Regions from separate parts of the Homo sapiens genome. Here region 1 is linked to region 2. Evidence: fine-mapped expression QTL. A gene starts in region 2. The other region holds a variant in brackets. All regions are shown on one strand. Distances are from middle to middle.

Region 1 (8,329 bases), 19 kb before region 2:
AAAAGACATTCTCTCTGGAAATACAAATATATAACAAAGAGTAGAGACTATTATTAGGGAGTGTGCTTCACTGACAGTCTGAATTGGATCTGATTGTTCTCCTGTTACACAGGAGAGAGTACTTTCAATAGAACATCTACATACTGAGAGGTAGTATGGCAGTTAATTTCAGTGCAAGACTGAATCAAGCTTCCTATATTTTGGAAAAAAACTTATGTTTTTTCATGGAAACTAGATACTCTTTACTAGTTTATTGAATAAAAAAAATTGAAGATCCCGCATTTTTAAAAGGCCCTTTACATAAAGTAGAGTTTCTAGTTGACAGATTTGGAAATCAGTCTGAATGGGACATACTATGGATTCAACACACAGAATGAGTTTTCCTCAAACCACTACCTTGACATAGATTTGATACCCTCCCTCAAAAGAATCCTATAAAAAATTGCTTCAAAGCCCCTTTGAAATTGCAATAGTGCAGCAAAACCACAAGTAAACAACTGCCTGTTAACCTGTTATTTCAAATATAGACTGAAAAGCCAACAGGCATTTTTCGTGTGCAATTTTTCTTTTAAAACAAGTTGTAAGTTGAAATATCAAATCTGCACAGCGCTGTCCCTTCACAGAAGGCAAGAAACTGCCGGCACATCATGTCAGAGGCCGCCCTCGGTGCTGTAGGCTGTGGAAGTGGGCCTCCCTCAGGGTCTGGTTGATGTGGAAGTAGAGGCCTTGGCACAGCGCGGACTGCTCGGGCACGGGCTGAGGCGTGTTAGGGCTGGATCCGGCCATGGTCTGGCTCAAGCTGCCTTCCGGCCCGCTGGCCCTGTCCGGGCTATTGATGCTGCTGCTGCTGCTGCTGCTGCTCCCACCACTGTCACTGCCTGAAGACTGGAAGGAAGAAGAAAGAAACAGGGTCACAATAAGGCTGTTTTGTTTAAGAGCTTTACTGTGGTTTCATGTACAGCGCTCTATTAAGAGTACCTTTCCAGTTCAGCTTGAGGATGAAGACATATACTGGGCTTTGGAATTGATAAAGTACGCTCTCCTAAAACGTTTCATCCTCTCCTCACAGCCACCCTGTCAGGCTGAGCAGGGTTTATTGTCCTTAATACACAGCTCTAGGAGGATGGGTCCAGTCCAGGTTCAAGCACGGGCTGCCTAACTCCAAATCCTTTCAACTATATCCTAATTCTTTTGCACATATTCTATACCTGCTTTTCCCATTCATTTCAATAATTTCCAACCAAAGAAGGCAGTTCTCAGCCTCCAAGGGAATGTATGAGTCATTGGGACAGAGTATAAAAAAGGTGACAAATAAGATGGCTTCTGGGTATAAGCGAAGATAAAAACTAAAAGCCTATGCCAATTTTGTGATCATCATAGACACAAAATGGTATTCTGTAACTGCAGGACACAGACCCTGAAAGGACTTTAATAGACTTCTGGTCAAGTTATCTTATGTTGGCATTATTGCAGTTCATATGTACATGTGTGTACATGAGCGTGCCTAACTTTTTCTTTAATGTAACTAACATGACTTGGTGTTTTAGTCATCTTGGAGAGGCTACTCGGAGATCCCTGATAAGAGTCACTTTCATTCTGCAGTTCATGTTTTAAAAAAAAAAAAAAAAAAGTCACTTTCAGAAATTCCCGCCTTCCACCACTAGGACTCTCAAAGGGGAGGGTGACACGAAGGACCCATTTCAGAATTATGGTATTTTACAATTTTTTTTGGAGACAAGGTCTCACTCTGTTACGCAGGCTCGAGTGCAGTGGATCAAGCTCACTGCAGCCTCAATCTCCTGGGCTCAAGCAATTGTTCCACCTCAGCTTCCTAAGCAGCTGGTACTACAAGCGTACGCCACCATGCCTCGTTATTTTTTTTTTTTTTTTTTTTTTAGTAGAGACAAGATCTCGCTATGTTGCTCAGGCTGGTCTCCAACTCCTGAGCTCAAGCAATCCTCCTGCCTTGGCCTCTGAAAGTGCCAGGCAGGAAAGATTACAGGCATGAGCCACCATGCCCAGCCTTATTTTACAATTTTACTATTGCATTTCTAATAAATGACAACCCTGATAACTGAATTGGCAGTACCTTTCTGTGTTTACAGTGCAATACAATATTGTATTCAGCACATGAGAAAGAATTCTAGTAATTAATATCTAGCATATAATTGTTTTTTAAAACTTAGCCGTTTAATACATCCACATTTATGTTCCCTTAGGCAAAGACATTGGTTCTGAAATGTCTGCTTACAACTAGGTAAAGTCTACACATAAGAAAAAAAAGACTGGAGGCCAGGTGCAGTGCCTCACACTTGTAATCCCAGCACTTTGGTTGGCTGAGGCAGGTGGACTGCTTGAGTGCAGGAGTTCGAGACCTGGCCAACATGGCAAAACCCCAGCCTGGCCAACATGGCAAAACCCCCATCTCCATTAAAAATACAAAAAAATTGGCCGGGTGCAGTGGCTCATGCCTCAGGAGTTTTGAGACCAGCCTAGCCAACATAGTGAAACCCCGTATCAATTAAAAATACAAAAATTAGCCGGGCATGGTGGCAGGCGGCTGTAATCCCAGCTACTAGGGAGGCCGAGGCAGGAGATCGCTTGAACCTGGGGGGTGGAGGTTGCAGTGAGCCGAGATCGCGCCATTGCACCCAGCCTGGGCAACAAGAGCAAGACTTCATCTCAAAAAAAAAAAAGGCCAGGCGCGGTGGCTCATGCCTGTAATCCCAGCACTTTGGGAGCCCGAGGCAGGTGGATCACGAGGTCAAGAGGTCGAGACCATCCTGGCCAACAAGGTGAAACCCCATCTCCACTAAAAACACAAAAATTAGCTGGGCATGGTGGTGTGTGCCTGTGGTCCCAGCTACTAGGGAGGCTGAGGCAAGAGAATCGCTTGAACCCGGGAGGTGAAGGTTGCAGTGAGCCGAGATCACGCCACTGCCCTCCAGCCTAGTGACAGAGTAAGACTCCATCTCAAAAACAAAACAAAACAAAAAAATTATCTGGGCGTGGTGGCTCGCGCCTATAGTCCCAGCTACTCAGGAAGCTGAGGTGGGGGAATCACTTGA[AC/A]CTCGGAGGTCGAGGTGGCAGTGAGCCAAGATTGCACCACCGCACTCCAGCCTACGCAATCGGAATGAGACTGTCTCAAAAAAAATAAAGACTGGAAAGAAAGAACGAAATCACAGTAGTTATATTAGGATGGAAAGATTATAGCTGCTTGACTTTTTCTACACTTCAACTTTTTTGCAATGTGGTTATTATGTATTTTTATTATAAAAATGTATAAATTAAACAAAATGCTGTTTACAGATATATATTTTAAAGTGATTCTTAAAATCCTAGTTCTATCCCTTTTTTGACCAAAAATTACATCCAATAATATGCATATAGATAACTTATCTGAAACAATGAAAACAAGCAATGTTCACAAAGCTGCCATCATTAACAAGACTCAAACCAAGACTTGTGATGGTGCCGAGGCCATTGGAGCTATGGTCACATACCCCAATACCTACAGGTAGCAGGGGACAACCCCTCTTTCTAGAATAAAAAAATAAAAAAATAAAAACCTCATGAAAGGATGATAATGGGCCGGGCTGATGAAGTCAGATAGCAGGATTTGCAGCCAGCTGCAACTGTATTTACTTAGAGGCTTAAGAAGTCAAAGTCAAAAACAAAAATTGTATTCTACAAAGGCGTCTCCTAACCTAGTATAACAATGTAGAATGGCCACTTGCACCTTGCGAATCATGAATATTTAACAAACAGGTCACTACACTCAATTAGAAACCCACCGCGCAGAACGCTTTGTTTCCTCTTAGTCTGTTTTCTTTACTGTTTCTCATTACAGGTACTGTCTGAAAATCAAGGCAAGAACTACAATCAGTTTCTAGTAAGTCAAGTTTTCATCTCAAATTATATCTATTTCGTACTATAATAGCACAAGGGTGATGCTACTCTAAGAAAAGGCAAAAGTTCTTTAAACAGATTAGGGAAGATTTCTGTACATAATTTTTTTTTATTTTTTATTTTTTTTAGGGTTAGGTAGATTTGCAATTTCCAGTTCATTTAAAAAATCTTGGCTGGGCGCGGTGGTTCACGCCTGTAATGCCAGCATTTTGGGAGGCTGAGATGGGCAGATCATGAGGTCAAGAGATCGAGACCTTCCTGGCCAACATGGTGAAACCCCGTCTCTACTAAAAATACAAAAATTAGCTGGGCGTGGTGGTGTGTGCCTGTAGTCCCAGCTGCTTGGGAGGCTGAGGCAGGAGAATCACTTGAACCCAGGAGGCGGAGGTTGCAGTGAGCTGAGATCACGCCACTGCACTCCAGCCTGGCAACAAAGCAAGACTGTCTCAAAAGAAAAAAAAAAAAGTGTTTACTGGGCCTTGTTTATAATGGCTAAAAATTGGAAACAACCTAAATGTCTAATAGAGAATTGGTTTAATTATATTACATCCATTAATATACATATATGATGAAATTCTATTCAGCCATTAGCAATGATCATAGAGACATACATATACTAACATCGAAGTCTTTGGCATCATTTTTTACATCATTTCAGTTCATACTAAGCAGTATATATAGTATATCAGTTGATTCTTAAAATGTTTTTCTCAAGTGTATTCATACATATATTTATATACACCAAAAACAATCTGGAAGGATATATATGACAAAATATTTACGATTTGGATCTTCTATTTTATTTTAAAATTTATTTTCTCAAGTGTCTATCAAAAAACATTTCTTTTGAGGAAGAAACTGATAATGAGTAAGTGAACTAAAGAATGCTACCATGGGCCAGGCATGGTGGCTCACACCTGTAATCCCAGCACTTTGGGAGGCTGAGGCAGGCAGATCACTTGAGGCCAGGAGTTCGAGACCAGCCTGGCCAACATGGCGAAACCGCGTCTCTACTAAAAATACAAAAAGTAGCCGGGCGTGGTGGCGCATCCCTGTAGTCCCAGCTTCTCAGGAGGCTGAGACAGCAGAATCGCTTGAACCTGGGAGGCAGAGGTTGTACTGAGCCGAGATGGCACCACTGCACTCCAGCCTGGGTGACAAAGTGAGACTCTGTTTCAAAAGAAAAAAAAAGAATGCTACTAGGAAACCAAGTAAGGTCTTCAATTACATTTAACTTCAAAATGGAGACTGAAAAGTATTGATACTGCCAATATGATTTTGAGAAGATTGTTTCACCTTAACTACCTCAGAACTTCTAAAGCTGCTTCAGTTGTATTAACTTGCATTGAGCAGACCAATGATAGTGTTAAACTACTGAGGCTTTGGTTTCTATTTTCTGACAATTCAGACCAGTTTTCTCACTACTGTGGAGGCTTAGGGAGTGTCACACAATCTATAGATGGACCAGGATTTTTCAAATTGAGAGTGAAACCAGCATCAAATTGGTGGGTTACAACCAGCATTAAAAAAAAAAAAAAAGGACAACAGAGTGCAACATAAGGATATTGTTCTGTGAAGCTTTCTTTCAATTATTCACAAATATATTTGGTATGTACTGGGTTACAAAATAAAGCATTTCTATGGAACAGGGTCAAAAAATTTTTTGAAGTTACTGTAGTTGATCTTAACACTGTCAGCCACCAAAGTCATCTGCTTTATGGGATAAAGGAAAGACCATTCTTCACTTTTAACCCAAAAGGCATAAAACTAAATTTGAAGTCTGTATTAGTGCCTTAAGATATATACAGAAGTAAAACATTTTTGTCTCCTAAAGTAAACATCTTGAAACAGGAAAAAATCCTATTTCCCTCACTTAGTTGAAGCTTTTTAATATCAGATTGCTTGAGGGCAAAAGCCAATACTTGATGATGCACGGCTTTGGAAATGGAAACTGCTATCTTAGTAGAGAAGTGTTTACCTTGTCACATTTGTTCTCGAAAAGACACCAAATTCTTTTACCAAAAGAGAAACAAGGGTCCAAAGACTTTGGGACTGAGAAGGACCATCAAATAGGAATCCCACTCTTATGATCCTGATTCCTTACAGACTCATCAAACAGTTTAACCAAATCAACGGTTACAAAGCTCATTTTCTTTTCTCTGAATTGTCCATTTAGGCTTAGTGCTGACATGACATCTGACCAGGCTATTTTCATGACACAATCCAAAGAGAATAAAGCTGCGTGTGATCTGTGAAATAAAAACCCCTTGCAGGTCTGTGAACACAAGCAAGATAAATTTATGAAGGCTCTGGCCAAGAATCTCTCTCAACAATATACAAAGAGTCCTGTCTTGAAGATCTGTGTGAAAAAGGATTCTAGGTTAGTTTCGGTAATAATAAAACCTACCACTGTATCCTTATAACCGCAGACATCTGGGTAAGACCCAGAAGAGAACTGCCATGATACAATCTATTTTGGAATTACCTATGGGCTTTTTATTTCATTTTTTGAAACAAGGTCTTGCTCTGTCACTCAGGCTGGAGCAGTGGCATGATTACAACTCACTGAAGCCTTGACCTCCCATGCTCAAACGATCCTCCTGCCTCAGCCTCTTGAGCAGCTGGGACTACAGGCGCATGCCACCATGCCCAGCTATTTTTTGTAGAGACGAGGTCTCACTATGTTGCCCAGGCTGGTCTTGAACTCCTGGGCTCAAGATATCCTCCTGCCTCAGCCCCACAAAGTGCTAGGATTACAAGTGTAAGCCACTGCACCTGGCCACTAGGGGCTTTTTAAAGTGTAAATGCCAGGGCCCCACCTCAGCACCATGCTGGCAAAAGGAAGGTGCAGCTTGTTCTCACATCCAACCACTGGGCAAAGAAATGTTTGTGTGCTTACTATGTACAAGGCGTTCCACTAGGGCTGCTGAAGCATTCAGTAAATATTTACTGAGCTGAATCAAGAAAATGGTGGCACCATACCCATTGGTAACAACAGTTCACAGCTACTGTGGTGATGGGAATCCAGCAATGGATGCTGACTGAGTACTAGGAGAGGATCCTTAACATGAATGGTGTCTCAGCTGGGCCCAGGAGGATAAGGAAGAATTTTCACAGGCAGGGTATGACCAATGGGAACAAGAGCAAACTCAGAAAAGCAAGGTGTGGTGTGGGTGGGCCCTTGACAGGAGTGAGTGAGAGGGAAACTGCACAAGAGGTGATGGCTAGATTATCAAGAGCCATGAGGGCTGCAGGAACAGGTGGGTCCTGAGCATGGAAGACTGGCTCAGGTCTATACTTACGAGTGGGGATCCTAGGAATCTGTGGGAGATGAATGAGGTTAAGGATCTGAAAGCAGAGCCCTACTGGGAGCTTTCCTAATACAACAAGCAGGAAGGCAGGCCCAGGAGGACTGTGGAAATGACAAGGAAGGAGAACACGCACCACCCCCGAGGAGGACAGAAAGAACTCCGGAAGGAGAGGAAGAAGACATAGGGTACTCGAGCATCAGGACAGTGCTGGGCAGACAGCAGGTGTTTGGGAACTGTTTGCTGAATGGAAAGACCATTGGTGAGCCTGGCAAAAAGTTTGAATAGAGTCAAGGAGGAAGCCAGGATCCAGAGAGTAAGGGAGGGAAGGCCGATGAGAAAGTCCCAGCAGTGGCTGCAGGCAACTGAAGGTGACTGGCGGGAGGGAGAGGGAGAAGGCACACAGGAAGCTGAGGGGAAAACAAGGCAGAGAGGAGGTGAGTGGGGAAAAGAGCCCACTAGCAGGCCAGGGAAAGAAACAGTGGGTAAAAGGAATCTGAAGAGCCGAAAAGAAGGGAGAAATACTAGAAAAAGCTTTCAGGAGTCTTGAGAGAATATAGAGCAAAAAGGCAGAAGGACACACTACTCTCTTTGGCAGAAGGGCTAGATATAACTAAATTGTGAAGCAGAGGACGGGGAAGTTGAAGTTCATTTTCTTAGTCCAAAGGGCTCAAATGATACATCAAAGGGCACAGAAGCTCTGGTCTCTCAGCCAGGCCTGCCTTTCATTTTATTTTTCCAGTGTGCAAAGTCAGTTTAAGAGACAACTCACTTATACCCATGGCAGAAACTAAACAACTCCAAACACCATTTCTACTAATAACCTTAAGAAAGCACCCCCACCTCAGACAGAAATATTAATCACTAAGCCATTCCACTTCATAAAAAGAGAGCTATGTGTATATTATCTAGAACCAAATGCTTTCTCTTCTTAATTTGAAAAGCAGGGCTGGGCCCAGTGGCTCATGCCTGTAATCTCAACACTTTGGGAGGCCAAGGCGGGTGGATCAGTTGAGGCCAGGAGTTCGAGACCAGCCTGGCCAACATGGTGAAACCTCATCTCTACTAAAAATACAAAAAACCAAAACAAAACAAAACAAAAATTAGCCAGC
Region 2 (8,336 bases):
AGCATCACTGGACACTAAGAGCAAAAATACAAGACAGCAGCAGCGAGGTCAAGCTTAAGTTAGTAAAACTCATTTCTAAAAAGAAGCTTAACAATTTTAAATGTCTGTTGGGACTGAAACAAGAACAGGAAGAGGTTAATGACTAAGCTTTCAACCTCTAACCTAATTAAGGTTTTCTTCTTTTTACACTCCCTGAAATTAGGATTCCGAGTTACCTAATTGTACTCCCTTCCATATGACAACATTTGATATAAGAGTGGCTGCCTTTGCCTATTTGCCCTGAAAACCCTTATAAAAGTACCTCTTGGTCACATTCACCTGCTTATTCTGGCAACACTAGCCGGTATTATGATATAACAATTACTTCACTAGATTGTTACTATGAGATGATAGCATAAGCTGCTTAAAATTTCCAGGTTTAAAGAAAAATCACACATCTTTCTTAGGCAAGTGTTCTCGGACATGCAAGAAAGACCAAATTTGCATGTACTCTATTTAAGAATTATGTGCTGTCAAAACGATTTCTGAACCTGTTAGAAAACAGAAATAAATTAAAGGAGGTATAATTTTCAGTCAAATTGCCCGGAACTGTACTGTCCAATACGGTAGCCACTAGCCACATATGGTTATTTACATTTAAATTAACTAAAATTAACCATCCAGTTCCTAGGTCACAGCTGCCCTGTTTCTAGTGCTCAGTGGCCACGTGTAGCTAGTGGCTACTGCACTGACCAGCACAGATAAAGGACATTTCCGTCACTGCAGAACGTTCTCCGGAGCAGCACAGGCTAGAGGTCTGTATGTACATGGCAGCAGCACCTATTACAAAACCCTTGAAGTTTCAGCTTTCTATAGTTAAGAGACAAAAGGCTAGTGTGGACACACAGCTCTTGGAAAGCATGTACATTTGGAGGATATAGTGTCTTCTAAATAATTATACACTTTCTATGAGAGTAGGGTGGCTTACAGTGGCAGGCCTTTAATCCTAAAGGTTTTGAGTTGAGGTTTGAATATTAGAGAAAATAAATGATCACCCTAAGCTCACTTCTCTGTACTCTGCAACATTCTGAATAGGTCTAACTTTAATAATGAGTATGGATCCCAGCTTAAGTTTGGAATAATAAAGAGTGTGTGGTTCTGATAAAGCTTCAACCATCCTGCACTGGGCTATGTAATTTACTTCATTCTAAGACATTTCTGCTCCCCACCTTTCTCTTAGGAGATCAGATCTTAGCTGCACATTACTTTGAAGTAGTTGGAGGTTAAAAAAAAATAGATGAATATCAGGTTTTAATAATCATTAAATGGGTGTGCTTTTATCATAAATTTGAACCAAGAAACTGCTAATTTCATCCTAATATGATCAGGGAATTTGAGTGGGAGTGTTCTGCAGAGGCAAAGCAATGTCTGCTGGGAGGCCAGTCGACACCCAAAGAGAAAGTCATTGAGTAAGTAGCAGCTGCTGGTCCTCACACACCCATTTTATCAGCGTGCCAACAGCTGACTGGGCTTTGGGCTGCTGAGTCACTCTAACCAAACTTAGGAGCCTGATCAAAATTTGCTATCTCCTCATTTATAATGGGGGATAGATCTTTCCAGGGACAAGACTATGAATGTCAAGGAGGTTGCATGGCAGAGGGACTGTAAGAACAAAAAAAGATGAGATGATTTTGTGGATTTCAACTAATCTCTGGGAGAGTCACATGAAATATCCCTGCCTCATAAATTACTTGATCTCTCAAGGCACCAGAATAATCTCTTTGGCCTGTTGGTAGCCTTCTCCTCTGGATGGTACCAGATTAAGAAAGAGTCCTACCTGCTCTTCATTTGCCTTTTTCTAGGCTCTTAGCAGATCTCATCCTTGAAACATTCTTCTTTCAACAATGGTGTTAACAACTGGCAAGATTACAGCTTCATGCTCATCCCTATCAGTTCAATCAATCAGATTACAATTTTTGGCATTAATGCCACAGACCAGGTTATGATTTTAGCAGGCACCCCTATAACTGATTATATTCTTCCCTAACCATCTAGGTGCAGATTACCAGTTAGCATCTGTTACTTCTACAGATGGTTGATTCCATCACGTTGCATTATTTCATTTCTCTCCAACCTTCCTGTCATCTCCTAGAGACTCGGCATAGAAATAATCTTAAGAGTATGGGCTGGGCACGGTGACTCACACCTGTAATCCCAGCACTTTGGGAGGCTGAGGCAGGCAGATCACTTGAGGTCAGGAGTTCGAAACCAGCCTGGCCCACATGGTGAAACCCTGTCTCTACTAAAAATACAAAAGAGTTAGCAGGGCGTGGTGGCGTGTGCCTGTAATCCCAGCTACTTGGGAGGCTGAGGCAGGGGAACTGCTTGAACCCAGGAGGTAGAGGTTGCAGTGTGCCGAGATCGCACCACTGCACTCCAGCCTGGCCGACACAGTGAGACTCCATCTCAAAAAAAAAAAAAAAAAAAAAAAAAAAGAGTATGGAAACTAGTGGTTTTCAAACTTTATTTTAAAAAGTAACAGAACTCTTTCTTTCTTACTGTAAAAAAATTCTCTCTATATAAGAGATAAAGGATCTGTTAAAGTAGGGACTCCCAGTCTGGTGAGGTGGCTCACATCTGTAATCCCAGCACTTTGGGATGCCGAGGCGGGTGGATCCCTTGAGCCCAGGAGTTCAAGACCAGCCTGGGCAATATAGTGAAACCCCACCTCTACCAAAAATACACAGATTAGCTGGGTGTGGTAGCTCACACCTGTGCTCCAGCTACTCAGGAGGCTGACGTGGGAGGATCACCTGAGCCTGGGAGGTTGAGGCTGCAGTGAGGCATGATGGGGCCACTGCACTCCAGCCTGGTCGACAGAGTGAGACTCTGTCAATCAATCAGTCAATCAATCAACCAATCAATCAATCAATAAGCAGGGACTCCCTCACTACACACTCACCTCTCTGCGGCTATCCAATCTACTGTGGGAGAGCCTGAAAACCCTTTTTTTTTTTTAGATGGAAGTTTCGCTCTTGTTGCTCAGGCTTGAGTGCAGTGATCTCCGCTCACTGCAACCTCCGCCTTCCAGGTTCAAGCGATTCTCCTGCCTTAGCCTCCCAAGTAGCTGGGATGAAGGTGCCCACCACCAGGCCCAACTAATTTTTTTGTATTTTTAGTAGAGACAGAGTTTCACCATGTTGGCCAGAGTGATCTCCAACTCCTGACCTCAGGTGATCCGCCCGCCTTGACTTCCCAAAGTGCTGGGATTACAGGCGTGAGCCACCGCACCCAGCCGAAAAACCACCGTCTTAGACCATCCTAGAGCTGGCAGAGCTGGCCCATCATACTCCATTAAACACTGGCAGGAAAAGCCTGTCCAAATCAAATAACTTCTTTAAAACATGTTGAGATTATTTGTGTACAAGATAAAAGGAATCTACTGCCAGTATAAATGCATTCAGATTAGTTATGTACAGTAGAATTTTTATTTGTAGGAAATATTTAGATTTTTTTTCAGATATGTGAGACACCCCAAGAGAATATCGTAAGTATAAACTGGGTTTGGGAAAGAATAATATGGCAGTCGGGTCAGATTCACTGTATCTAAAGATCTTGCTCCTAATTCCGATGGCATGTCTGTAATTGGGCCCCCAATTTCAAATTTAGTCCACTCTTCTTTTCTATACAAGGAGAGGCTTTATGCTCCACCTGCTACATGACCCAAATCAATAATCCAATGCAGCAGCTTGGGGAACCCTAGGTTTTCACTATGGGACCAAATAAACTCAGAATACTTTTGAGAACTTCAATCACATGAAATAATTATTTCAGAGAAGGATCCTTGTGGAAAGACCGTAACAGGAAGAGCATTCTGAGGTAACCTTTCCCAACTTTCTCCTCCACACATTCTTGCAGAGGAAATTAAGAGAGAGAAAAAAATTAAGAAATCCCAACTTAGTCCGGACTCTAGTAGTACATGTCAAGCACAGAACCCCTAATTTAAGACCCGCGTCCCGAGGCCAGGCTCCCTCGGGAAGGTAGCGAGTGCATCGCGATAAAATCTTTCCTCCCGCCTTCGGAGTCAAACGGCCCCGCAATCCAAACAGTTTAGAATCCAGCTTGTTCTTAATGCCACAGTCAAGAGAAGATCCATAACCCGCCTTGGTCATCTGCCCTTCTGTGTTCACAACCGTTCAGGGCACAAGTTCTTCGGTCTAACCGAATCTTTCCCTGCTGCGGGGTTAAGCCCAACCTTTCTTTCTGACCTTGGGGAGCCGGCAGCTCCCCGCCCGGTGCCCTCACAAAAGCCTTTGGGGGCTCCCTCTCCAAGATGAGACGTTTATCCCATCCCCCCACCCTCCTAAATTTAGGACAGGAAAGCTTTAGGGCCACCGTCTCTCTTCCGGGACCGATCACACTTCGTTCCAAATAGGAAAAGACAGGGGGGAAAAAAGATGGAGGGGCGGGAGACCTGGACCCCGGAGAGTCACCTTCCAGCTACCCACAGGAACCAAGCATCCGATCACTCGCGCATCCCTCTCCCCTCCTCCCCCGGCCCGCAGTGCACCCCACAGGGAGCCCCGCCGGGTCCACTCTTGCTCCGACCCCCATTTCGCGCGCCCCCTCGGCTCTATCTCCCAGATCCTCAGGCGACGAATGGAAAGGGGGTCCCTTCCCTCTCACCTGGGACGGAGGCGCTCGCTCATGGCAGCTGGCGGATGGAAGCTACGCGGCGCCGCTCCGCGAAGAGAGGGAACAGAGGGGGTTGTGTTTCGGCGGCCGCCACGCCCACCCCCTCGGGCCTTGGCTCTCGCAGCCGCTCGGGTGGACGCAGCCGGTGGCGAGTACCCCTCAGTCGGACCCGTACCACCACTACTTCCGGCGTCTGCTCCGCGCCCCCCCATGTCGCTGCCGCCGTGGTACCGCCCTCTCGCGGCTGCGCAGTGGCACCATCCCAACCGCACCGACTGGTAACCCCGCCCACGGGAAGAGGCGGGCTCGGAGCGGGAGGAGCGACTAGGAGCTTCTGGGAGAAAGGACCTCCCCTGGGGTGGCAGAAGCGCTCGCCTGTTCACAGCCAACGGAGGGTACGGTATAAAAGTCAAGCCAGGTTTCAAATAAATTCAATTATGTCATAATAATATCATACAAGTATTTGAGTTGAATCCGTGTAACATATTTTAAAACAGGCGGACCTATCCGGCAGTGGTGCAGACGGCCTGACGAGGTTCCTTGGCCGGGGGTTGGGCAGGGGCCTGGGGGGCTTCCCTGGGGGGCTTGTCGCCGGGGCCGCCTGGGCTTTCAGGTCTTCCGAGGTGAGGACGGTGCTCTGTGGGGAGCTTGCAAGGGCGGGTTTGTTTTCCGCGGCCCACGTTCTAAGTCTGGGGGAGACTCTCCTGAGCGGAGAGGGTAGGGAATCGGGTGCCGGGGCCGGCGGAGGGTCTTCCTGGAACCGCAGGAGGAAATCCTCGGTGGGGCTGCGGGAACGGCTGTCCCTGACCCAGGAGCTGCCGGGCCGACCCCATCCACTCCGCAGAATCAGAACAGCTGGCAGAATCAGAACAGCTTTCAGGGAAAGGAAGGGTGCGGGGAGGTGGGCAGGCTGGTAACGCAGCGGGAGGAGGGAAAGGCGGCTGGAGAGCGCCGGAGGTGAGGGTGAGGATTAGTGGAACTATTGAGGTCCTCCTTGAGCCCGGAGGCTGGGGAGGTCTTAACTCTCTGCTTTCCGGAACCTGTGTTTCTATTTGGTTCAGTATCGTGCCGCGTTTACTCACTGTGCATGCTGCCAAGTCACCTGTCTGATCGTGTCCTACACAGGCTGACATTCACGTTTCATTCTGCCACACTCGGGAACGGTGATCGGGGAAGCATGGGGATCCGGGAGAAGCACCCACAAAACTAGCATCCTCCTGGAGGAGCTCGGGTAAGAAAACAGACACCCACGTATAGACGTTATCGTGGGAATGTACCGGGATCTTTCAAGTAGGGTTGAGTGTGAGGTGGAGTGGAGGCAGAAACGTCTAGCAGGTGTCAAGCCCTTCCTAACGTTGTTAGCCGAAGGTCCATGGACTGGCTTCATTTGTGTGTATTATTGTAAACAAACAGTCTGTGGCTTTCATCCTGTTAGTGTGTACCTCCAAAGAAAGAAAGAATGATGGCTCACGCCTGTAATCCCAGCAGGCTGGGCGCGGTGGCTCACGCCTGTAGTCCCAGCACTTTGGGAGGCCGAGGCGGGTGGATCACCTGAGGTCAGGAGTTCAAGACCAGCCTGGCCAACATGGTGAAACCCCGTCTCTACTAAAAATACTAAAATTAGCTGGGCGTGGTGGCGCACGCCCTTAATCCCAGTAATCCCAGCCACGCGGGAGGCTGAGGCAGGAGAACCGTTTGAACCTGGGAGGCTGAGGTTGCTGTGAGCCGAGATCGCGCCACTGCACTCCAGCCTGAGTGATAGAGCAAGACTCCATCTCAAAAAAAAAAAGACCAAACAACAACAAAGTAAAAATGATTACTGTAATCTGTTGGCAGAAAACAGTTTTGTTTTGAAGGACTTCGTACAGGATAAGGTGGGTTGGTTGCTTTATTGAATGGATTGGTGAAGATTGTGTCTATTTTGTAAGTGGTTTCAGTCACCCTTTTTAATCTCTTTGGTAGTCAGAAGATATTATCAGTTGTAGTACTGAATAATATTTAAACGTTTATATCTAAAGAATTAAGTGAACAAATATTGTATGCCAGGCTCAGTGCTAGGTTTTTACATACAGCTGTGTGCAGGATAGATATGTTTCCTGCCCTCTGGAACTTTATAGAAAGAATAAGAGATGTAGAAAGGAAATAACTTTCAACTAAACATTGGAATTAAACATTTTCTTTTCTGGACTCTAAAGAATAACAGGTACAAATATACATGGTATAAATGTTTTTTTTTTAATTTTTTACATCGTATATGTTTAACAAAGATGTCAAACTAATTTGCCAGTAATCTGTTGTACTAGAAACTATAAGTAGGCCAGGCGTGGTGTCTCACGCCTGTAATCCCAGCACACTGGAAGGCCGAAGGCGGGCAGATCACGAAGTCAGGAGATTGAGACCATCCTGGCCAACATGGTGAAACCCCGTCTCTACTAAAAATACAAAAATTAGCCTGGCGTGGTGGCGCATGCCTGTAGTCCCAGCTCCTCGGGATGCTGAGGCAGGACAATAGCTTGAACCTGGGAAATGGAGGTTTCAGTGAGCCGACACTGCACTCCGGCCTGGTGACAGAGTGAGACTCTGTCTCAAAAAAAAAAAAAAAAAAGTATAAGTGAAAAACAGGACTGTGTCCTTGGCCATGTATATATTTGTGCATTATGCATACATTTTATGTATATCTGTGTGTGTGTGTGTGTGTATATGCATATTACTAAATGTTAGTAGAGCTTCATTTCTCATTCTTTGATTGTGGTAATTCTAATATTTTCTTCTTACACCCTAGTGCATATTCTATTTATCACTTTGGAAACCTCTGCTGTAATCAGTAACCTTTGGCTGGGCGTGGGCGTGGTAGCTCGCGCCTGTAATCTCAGCACTTTAGGGGGCTGAGGTGGGTGGATTGCCAGAGCTCAGGAGTTCGAGACCAGTCTGGGTAACACGGACACGGTGAAACCCCGTCTTTACTAAAATACAAAAAATTAGTCAGGCGTGGTGGCATGCCCCTGTAGTCCCAACTACTTGGGAGGCTGAGACGAGAATTGCTTGAACCTGGGAGGCGGAGTTTGCAGTGAGCAGATATTGTGCCACTGCACTCCAGCCTGGGTGACAGAGTGAGACTCTGTTTCCAAAATAAATAAATAAATAAATAACCTTTGGTTCCTGGCCTAAGTTTTTTATTCTTTACCATTCTGTCCTTGAATAACGTGTTTAAGGGTTTTTAAACAATTTTTTATACTCATATAATGACTAGTTGACTTGCTGTAACCGTAAGTAGCAAACATCTAGCTTGTTCCAAATGAATTTAAAAGATACAACACATAAGTAAAATATTGGTATGTACAAACTATGTGCTTCTCATAATCTCACATTTACCTTTTTCAGGAATAGGATGAGTGATAATCCACCCAGAATGGAAGTGTGTCCTTACTGTAAGAAGCCATTTAAACGATTAAAATCCCACTTGCCATACTGTAAGATGATAGGACCAACCATACCTACTGATCAAAAAGTTTATCAGTCCAAGCCAGCTACACTCCCACGTGCTAAAAAGATGAAAGGACCAATCAAAGATTTAATTAAAGCTAAAGGGAAAGAGTTAGAGACAGAGAATGAAGAAAGAAATTCTAAGTTGGTGGTGGACAAACCAGAACAGACAGTGAAGA

What was found. PIP is the estimated chance that this variant, and not a neighbour inherited with it, causes the effect.
Region 1: its variant is fine-mapped to the expression of VCF1 in blood mononuclear cells (TOPMed, PIP above 0.99).

Annotation. Positions count from the first base shown.
Region 1 is chr17:73,208,884-73,217,212 of GRCh38, forward strand. VCF1 (VCP nuclear cofactor family member 1) reads right to left here. Exons shown (of 4, transcript NM_001098832.2): 3 at 3,795-3,857; 4 at 1-885. The coding sequence ends at 646. Among named protein-coding and RNA genes, the nearest start is that of VCF1, 19 kb to the right of the region's middle. The variant AC/A (reference allele first, on the strand shown) is at 3,069.
Region 2 is chr17:73,227,421-73,235,756 of GRCh38, forward strand. VCF1 (VCP nuclear cofactor family member 1) reads right to left here and starts at 4,974. Exons shown (of 4, transcript NM_001098832.2): 1 at 4,666-4,974. The coding sequence starts at 4,886. MTNAP1 (mitochondrial nucleoid associated protein 1) reads left to right here and starts at 5,013. Exons shown (of 6, transcript NM_001351264.2): 1 at 5,013-5,069; 2 at 5,800-5,905; 3 at 8,056-8,336. The coding sequence starts at 8,063. RefSeq lists enhancers at 1,560-1,609, 3,691-4,467.